3 separate regions of the Homo sapiens genome follow, and regions 1 and 3 are each linked to region 2. The links come from fine-mapping of genetic effects on gene expression. A gene starts in region 2. Each other region holds a variant in brackets. All regions are shown on one strand. Distances are between the middles of the regions. Region 1 overlaps LOC105371552 (a long non-coding RNA gene). Region 2 holds the start of CCDC144A (coiled-coil domain containing 144A). Region 3 has its middle 5.1 kb from the start of FAM106C.

What was found. PIP is the estimated chance that this variant, and not a neighbour inherited with it, causes the effect. A credible set is the group of variants that fine-mapping cannot tell apart.
Region 1: its variant is the best candidate, but not a certain one, in a credible set for the expression of CCDC144A in subcutaneous fat (GTEx, PIP 0.87).
Region 3: its variant is the best candidate, but not a certain one, in a credible set for the expression of CCDC144A in tibial artery (GTEx, PIP 0.64).

What each region holds. Positions count from the first base shown.
Region 1 is chr17:16,823,677-16,826,433 of GRCh38, reverse strand. LOC105371552 (a long non-coding RNA gene) reads right to left here. Exons shown (of 3, transcript XR_934251.1): 2 at 2,233-2,462. Among named protein-coding and RNA genes, the nearest start is that of FAM106C, 36 kb to the right of the region's middle. The variant A/G (reference allele first, on the strand shown) is at 1,065.
Region 2 is chr17:16,688,540-16,691,296 of GRCh38, reverse strand. CCDC144A (coiled-coil domain containing 144A) reads right to left here and starts at 1,056. Exons shown (of 17, transcript NM_001382000.1): 1 at 553-1,056. The coding sequence starts at 896. RefSeq lists an enhancer at 1,163-2,066.
Region 3 is chr17:16,792,622-16,795,378 of GRCh38, reverse strand. It overlaps the pseudogene USP32P1. Among named protein-coding and RNA genes, the nearest start is that of FAM106C, 5.1 kb to the right of the region's middle. The variant T/C (reference allele first, on the strand shown) is at 1,634.

The DNA.
Region 1 (2,757 bases), 140 kb before region 2:
TTTTTCATCTCTCATAGCTCTGCATGTTTTTTCAACAGTCTCTTGTTCTTGTTTCAAGATGCAATGGTTTCTCTGATCTCTTTGAGCCTATTAGTCCTGGCTCCAGCAGTGCTTCTATTTCTGTCATCAGCTCAGTTTCCTCAGTTCCTTTCTTGCTGTTTGTCTTGCCTCCATCTTTCATGCCAGAGGCTTTTCTCAGATGTCTGGTGGTCCTTGGTAGTTGTTCATATTTAAGAGTAAGTCACTGAGAAACTGATTGGAATATGTGTATATGTGTGTGGATAGCATGGGAGCTTGCCACTGGTAGGTCTCAGTATAGAGTAATCTGGTGGAGAATAGGCTGTTTCGTTGGGGGACAGTTATCTGTAGGACTTTTCTTGGGGAGGGTCTTCCTCAGAAGGAATACCTCTAATTCCCTGTCTGGATTGTAAAAGCTACCAGCTTTCTGGAAGCTGAGTGCGGGAAGGGGGCAGAGAAGGTCTCAGTCTCAGCTACTCTGCTACTAGTTGATTGCAGTTTATTGGCCCTGCTTGGTGTCTCAGGATTCAGAGTCCCTTTGGGGAAATTCTCAAGCATAAACATCTAGTTTCTCCTGGAGTAATCGTGGAGTGGTTGGGTTCAGACAAGGAAGGGAGAGAGGAGCTATAGCGGCCTCTGCTTTTTTTTTTCTTTTCCCGAGATGGTGTCTCGCTCTGTTGCCCAGGCTGGAGTGCAGTAGCACCATCTCGGCTCACTGCAAGCTCTGTCTCCCGGGTTCACACCATTCTCCTGCCTCAGCCTCCCGAATAGCTGAGACTACAGGCGCCCGCCACCACGCCTGGCTAATTTTCTTGTATTTTTAGCAGAGACGGGGTTTCACCGTGTTAGCCAAGACGGTCTCGATCTCCTGACCTCATGATCCACCCGCCTTGGTCTCCCAAAGTGCTGGGATTACAGGCATGAGCCACCGTGCCCGGCCGCCTCTCTGCTTTTTATATAGATCTCTAGCTCACCCTCCCATTTCTAGTTCACTTGTTCCTCACTGTCAGAGGTACCTGGTGCCCCCTATTCCAGAGACTTTCCAG[A/G]GTTCTTAAAAATTCAGAGTTAAAAAGTTCCAGAGTGTAAATATGCTTTGCCTCTTGGCTTCTCTCTGGGCAAGCACTGGGCTTTCTTTGTCTTTGTTTTCCAGATTCCAAAATTTGATTGCTATAATCTACTTTCCTGATCTCTTTGACCCCATGGATTTTATCCATTTACAATAATTTTAGTATTGGCACGGGGCTCCCCCATGTAGGGTGGTGCAGGGAGACTCACTAACCACAGGAGGTCCTGCCCGGGGCTCCTCCTTTACCCCCCTCCTTTTGGGGCAGGCTGGAGGGAGGGTCAGGTAATGCTGCTCACACAAAGCCTGCCTAGAAGTCCAGAGGTGGGGGGTACTCTGGGCCTCAGCTGTCAAGACTGGCAACCCTTTAACCCCTGATGACCCAGAAAATACCCTCCCTTAAAATGTCTGAGTACCACGCTTCTTTGGCATCAGGGAGGGGACGGGAGTGTGGTGTCCTCTAAGTCTGCTCCCTGCTTGGCCGGGCTGTTTGCAGCTCCTTGGTCACTGAGTCCTTGACTGCAGGGGAAGAGAGGTTGGCCTCAGGCTCCAGGTTAGGCCACGGTTCTGAGAACGGGTGTGGGGGATCAGGCTTATATTCCATGCTAGAGCTCTGGAGTTGGTGCGTGGGGTTGGGATGGGGCTGCAGAAGTGCCTTTTAAGATTATGTGCATGGACTGATCTGTCATTGGTTCCCTGCCATCCTTATCTTTTGGATTCCCCTCGGAGCAGGGGGAGGAAGGAGTTTCTTTTGGGTTCCACTGAATCAAATGAAAGGGAAAGTAAAGCTGTTCCTATGTCCTGGGCTCTGGAGCTTCTATTCCTGATCCCTGCAGAAGAAGGAGACGGTGGTGGTGGTGGGTGGGGGTGGCGGGGCACAGAGGAAGCAGGTACCGGGCCCTGCACCCCATTCCCACTCCCAGATCCCTCTGGACACAGCATTTTTCTCCAGTGAGCACAGCCTTCCCTTGCCCCACAGCCAACAGCAACATGCCTCCCAACAAAAGCATCTGCCCCTCAGCCAAAACCCCTGTTGCCTCTCTCTGGGGAAATTGTAGGACTGGGTCAGGGTGGGGGGACCATTCTCTGCAGGGAGATTAGGAGTGTCTGTCAGGGGTGGGTGGAGCGGGGTGGGGCCCTGGCTTACTCACATCCTCGAGAGTCCTTTGCTGGCAGATTTGGGGAGCCCACAGCACAGGTGTCTGTCTCAGTATTGTCTTCCAAGCTCCTAGGCCACAGTAGTGGGGGGCTCCCCTCTCTGGCTTCTTCTTTGGTGACAGTCAAGGTTGGGGGTGGGGTGAGAGAGGTCCTGCTTCTCTTCTAGGAACAGTTGATCCCAGGAAGAGCAGTGGAGCCTCCAGCAGGGGCTGTTGGGGCCTGTCTGAGGAGATAGGACGTGTCAGGCAGCCCCAGACACGACCACATTCCTCCCAACATGCCTGCTGGGGTCTGTGGAGCCCAGGGGCTGATGGGAGGGTGGGGTGGGGGCCGGAAGGGTTTGCTTTGGGAGGTTGTCTGGGAGATTGCTGAACTTTTGATATACACACCTCCAAAGCAGGACCAAGTGGACTCCTAAAAATGTCCCCTGACCCTTGGGGCTTCAGGAGTCAGGGACCCTCGTGTCCACTTCAGCCTTGCCCTTGGCACAGCCTGGCACCACTCCAGCCTCTACTCCT
Region 2 (2,757 bases):
ATGAAAAAAGGAAACTCCTCTCTTTCTGCAACATTATTTGAACTGAACCCCGAGGGCCTAAAGGATAATTTATCATGAAGGTCTTAGCTAAGTCTAGGCTGAGACAAAAGCATAACAGGCGGGGTTTCACCATGTTGGTCAGCCTGGTCTCGAACTTCTGACCTCGTGATCTGCCCTCCTCGGCCTCCCAAAGTGCTGGGATTACAGGCATGAGCCACCGAGCTCGGCCAACATGAAGTTCTTAAGGATGGAAGGAACCTGAGCGACAGTAGAATATGTCTGCTGTATAATAGGTATTCAGCTTATGTTTGATGAATAAATTGAGAAAATGGATAAACACAGTTGGGAAGTGCAATATTTTTAAAGAAAACTCCTGTAAAGTAGACCAACACTTTTGCAATAGTAATAATCCTTTATATTTGATCCCGTCTCACTAAGAGGCCTGGGCCCCTGACCCCTCTGACGTTTCCCCATCCCGGGTGCCGTGGGGCCTGCGGGCACCAGAAAGCCAGTGTCCCCGACAGGACGGCGCATCCTTCGCCTGGCCATTACCTCTTCTTCCTATCCCTCTTGTCCACGCCAGTGTCTCCAGGAGCTAAGATGTGCTCCACCCCAGGGACGTCGCCCGACCGGGCAGCTCTGTGGAGCTCGCCAAGATCTTCCAGGCGGACGTCGTGCTGGGGCTGGTCTAAGGCGCCCTCACCGTGCTTGCTCTCGCTGCCGACGCTGTTTTTCCACCAGCTGTAGGGGAAGCCCGAGGACCACTGGTCCCCCGGGTAGCCCAAGTACCACTGGTCCCCCTGGCTCCCGACGCTAGGGGTCTTCCTCGTGGCGTAGACTGCCGGCTTCGGAGACCCCTCAGCCCCTCCCCGCTTTTCTCCACCCCAGGAGGCCATCAGTAGCGAGCTACTGCCTCGGCCACAACCTCCCAGCAGGATAGCCCGCGGTTTCCAATCTGCGAAAGGAGGACCGCCAAGCCAGAAATGCCAAGCCAAGCGATCACTGCCACGCCAAGCCAAGCGACCACCGCCAAGCCAACAGCCACCGCAAAGCCTCGTGGGTAAGGCCAAGCCAATCCGTTACAGACCAGTGCGCCTGCCCACCTGTGACATCACGGAACCTGTGACTTCACTGCATCTGCAGCTCCAGCCTCCCAGAAAAAGACTCCTTGGCCTGCAGGTGGCGCTGCAGCTCCAGCCTCCCAGAAAAAGACTCCTTGGCCTGCAGGTGGCGCTGCAGCTCCAGCCTCCCAGAAAAAGACTCCTTGGCCTGCAGGTGGCGCTGCAGCTCCAGCGCCAACCTGGGCTGGCTGGTCCTCCCTCGGAGGTTTCGGGGTGGCGGTGCCCAGCCTGCCTGTCATGAGTGCCGCTTCACAGCGCCGCCGGCGCACCTGCTCCTAGGCTTGCTCGGTTCAGGGGTACGGGTCAGTTCCGCCCCCGGCTTGGCCACTGCAGCAAAGTTGCCCTAGGGTCCGCGCTGCCAGGACGCAAGCGGAGTCAGATGGCTGGGTCAGAGCGGCCTGTCAGCCCGGCTGGAAGGGCCTGCCCGACGCCGCTGCCCGCCCAGCTCCTACTCGGCCTGCGCCTGGAGCCAGGGACCAGCTCTGGGCATTCTGCTGCCTTAGGATGGGGCCAAGCAGCCGCTCCCCGCCGTGTGCCGCAGCCGCTGCGCGCATCTGCCCAGGGTCCGTGCAGCTGGCGACCCGGGCGGGTCGGGGAACGCCTGGTGCCACCAGGATTGCTCGCCTCTAGTCCGTCCTGACCCTTCAGCCCGCGAGCACCAGTGAGATTGAAGAAAAGTGACGGCCAGGCGCGGTGGCTCACACCTGTAATCCCAGCACTTTGGGAGGTTGAGGCGGGCAGATCACTTGAGGTCAGGAGTTTGAGGCCAGCCTGGCCAACATGGTGAAACCCTCTCTACTAAAAATACAAAAATTAGTTGGGCGTGGTGGCGCGTGCCTGTAGTCCCAGCTACTCCAGAGGCTGAGACAGGAGAATCTCTTGAACCCGGGAGGTGAACGTTGCAGTGAGCTGATATCGTGCCACCAAACTCCAGCCTGGGCGACAGAGCAAGACTCCGTCTCAAAAAAAGAAAGAAAAGAAGGAAGGAGAGAACGAAGCAAAGAGAAGGAAAGAAGGAAGGAAGAAAGGAAGAAAGAAAGGAAGGAAGGGTGACAAAGGAGAATCTAGAGAGCACTCAAATACTAATTCTTGAGGACAATTAAGACAGATAGCATTATGAAAAACAGATTTTGTCACTGAAGCCTCAGGGCTTCAGCCTAGATCCTGCGCTGCTCACCCACAGAAAGCCAATCACTGAGATGAGTATTGCAAAGGAAGAAGGCTTTAATCAGATGCTGCAGCCGAGGAGATGGGAGCTCAGTCTCAAATCCCTCTCTCTGACCAACTAAAATTAGGGATTTTTAGTATAGCAAAGAAGAAATGTAACTATGTATAAGAAAACATGAACTAGAAAGGCGTAAGGAAGCAATCATTTACAAAATATCTGTGGCCGGGCGCAGTGGCTCCCACCTGTAATCCCAACACTTTGGGAGGCAGAGGCAGGTAGATCATGAGGTCAAGAGATCAAGACCATCCTGGCTAACATGGTGACCCCTTGTTCTCTACTAAAAATACAAAAATTAGTTGGGCGTGCTGGCACGTGCCTGTAGTCCCAGCTACTCGGGAGGCTGAGACAAAAGAATCGCTTGAACCCAGGAGGTGGAGGTTGCAGTGAGTCAAGATCATGCCACTGTAC
Region 3 (2,757 bases), 100 kb before region 2:
TTAATCAGAAAGCCAGAGCATTATTCGTATGCTGCAGAGTTTACAGAGGCTAGGAGAAATAACATGAAACACAGAAACCAGAGCTGGATGAAATAAGGGCACAGAAAAGCTCACCATGAGAAGACAACACAGCAGAGCATGAAACATCACAGGGTACAACTCATTTACATCTGATCCCATGTAACACAGAGTTATCAGAATACCAAGTCTATACTTATCTGTCTCCTCCCTCATGGGGCCTTTTTATCTGAGATGGCAACAAAAGGAAGAACAAGCTCAAGAGTGTGCTGCTTTTGTTGAGAAGGCCCCTAATACCCACCCAAACCTTTGGGGTCCTGTTAATCAGCATGTTAGGCTGTGGAGCAAGAAGGAGTTAAGTGTAAGAAAGGAGAGAGCAAAGAATGGGCGGGGTGCAGGGATATGTGTTGGGGGTGGTGTAGAATGAAGGAGGAGAGAAGGAAGGATCTAGAGTGCAGCAGAAAAGAAAGAATTTTTCCCTCTCCATGCCTGGCTGCTACCTGACAAACAATCAAGAACCATAGAGCTGGGATCCTTCTGTTTGTCCCTCTAATGTATGGGAAGGTGGGTGAAGCATCAGGGTTATGAATGCTACCATAAGACTTCACACAGTTTATATTTGTGTCCCAAAGCAGAGCCCGGACCACAAGGCCCATACTGACTGCCTCTCTGTGGCAAACGTCACATATGTCCATCACCCACCCTATTTATTGCTCCTCACCCTTCCAGAGGTGAACTTCCTCCATGAATTTCCCTTCCTGAAACTCACGATGGGAACCTTAGGCTGCCTGGAATACAAATTGGCACAGCTCAAGACATGCAGCTTAGCATGGGTTTTCAGGCGAGACTTTTTCCCTATGTGAGAGTCACGAGGCTGTCAAATGCTGTTATAAACAAGCAAGGTTGGGTTTGATCATGCAGTTAAGGTTCTAGCACTGCATAATTATCCAGGCTAAAAAGCTCATTTAAAAAGGGGAACTTAGAGGAAAATTCTTTTTTTAGAAAAAGAAATCTGGCTTGGACTTGGGTTATAGACTTCTTTTTTGAGTACAAATTCTGTAGTAACAAGATATTAACTGTCATCATCTTTTGAACTGGTCACTCAAGGAAAAAACACGTGCTTCAAAAGGAAACGTGCTGTATCATCGTTGTTGGAATGAGTAGAAAAAGGGGTGTATCATATACGATAGTGTTTCCTTTCTCATGGCCAGTTAAATATTATCTCTATTATCTCTACCAGGAATACTTTATGGCCAACCACAAATTAGAGTAAGCTAGTAAAGAATGTTGAATTTTATTGACTATATTTTCTGGGGAACACAGGCTACAGTGCTAGAGGAAGACAGGGAGGAAAGATGGCTGATAAACAACATATTTGTGGACTGTACTGACAGTAATTTCTATTTATCAGTAAAAGTTCCCAAAGTGATAAAGATTCCCTTTACCTCTTGGGATCTATGCTTAGATCCTCTACTATTGTTTAAACAGTCTATGAATTACTTATAGGCACCCTCTTCTTTTTCAGAGTTGCTTTAAAGCTCATCTTAACACAAAACACAGGAAATGAAGTAATAGTCTTCATATAAGACTATTAAAAAAAAAAAGAGAGACAGGC[T/C]TAAGAATTTGTCTAGTTTAATTTTCTTTTTTTCTTTTTTTTTCTTTTTTTTTTTTGAGACAGGGTCTTGCTTTGTTACCCAGGCTGGAGTGCAGTGGCGAGATCACAGCTCACTGCAGCCTTGATCTCTTGGGCTCAAGCAATCCTCCAACCTCAGCCTCCCAAGCAGCTGGGACTATAGGTGCACAACACCACACCTGGCTAATTTGTGCATTTTTTGTAAAGACAGGGTGACATCATATTGCCCAGGCTGGCATCTAGTTTAATTTTCTACTGAGGAATCTGAGGTCCAAACAGGAGAGAAATGTAAAGGATAAGAGTGAGTGTCCCTGTATTTTTTTCTGATTACTAGGCATAATATTCATGTGGAAATTTTGGAAAGCAGAGAAAAATGTAAAAAGGCATGGAATCCTTTTATATTCTTAATACAAAGGCAACCACTGTCAAAATTTTGGCAGATTTTCTTCTGTCCTTTTTCCTAAATAGTATTTTTTTCAATATTGAAGGTATTATTTCCAGTATATGCAACTTTATGTCTTGTTTTTAAAAAAATGTTCACATATCATAAGCATGTTCCCATAAATGTTAGCAAAAACTCCTGGTAATCATTTTCAACAACTGCATTATAGTTTATCCAATGAATACACCATGCTTTATTTAACCATTCCTCTAATGTGAGACAAATATAAGTTGTTAATAACTTTTTACTCTCCTAAAAAATGCTATGATGATATTTGCCTGCAAATTATGGAGTAATTACAGAGTATTCTCCCCTCAGATAAATTCCTAAAAGGGAAATCACTGGAATAAAAAATATAAAACATATGGACAATAATCCCAATTTAAAAAGATGTTAATGTATATAAATAGAGTGTAAATAAAACAGTGTTGATGTACTGAAATATGAACTGTATAAAAAGTATTGGTAATTGTATATGGGGTGTACCTGTTTATCTGTAACTGTTATCCAAACAAATTAATTACTGTGGATGCCTCTATGTGCTGTTTTTCCTCATACAAGTAAACACAGAATGTCAAATTCTTCAGCTTCCCTCTCTGTGATCCTGTTTTAATTCTCCTACTTGAATAATTTCTTTCTGACTTACAGAGGGGATGCTTCATCT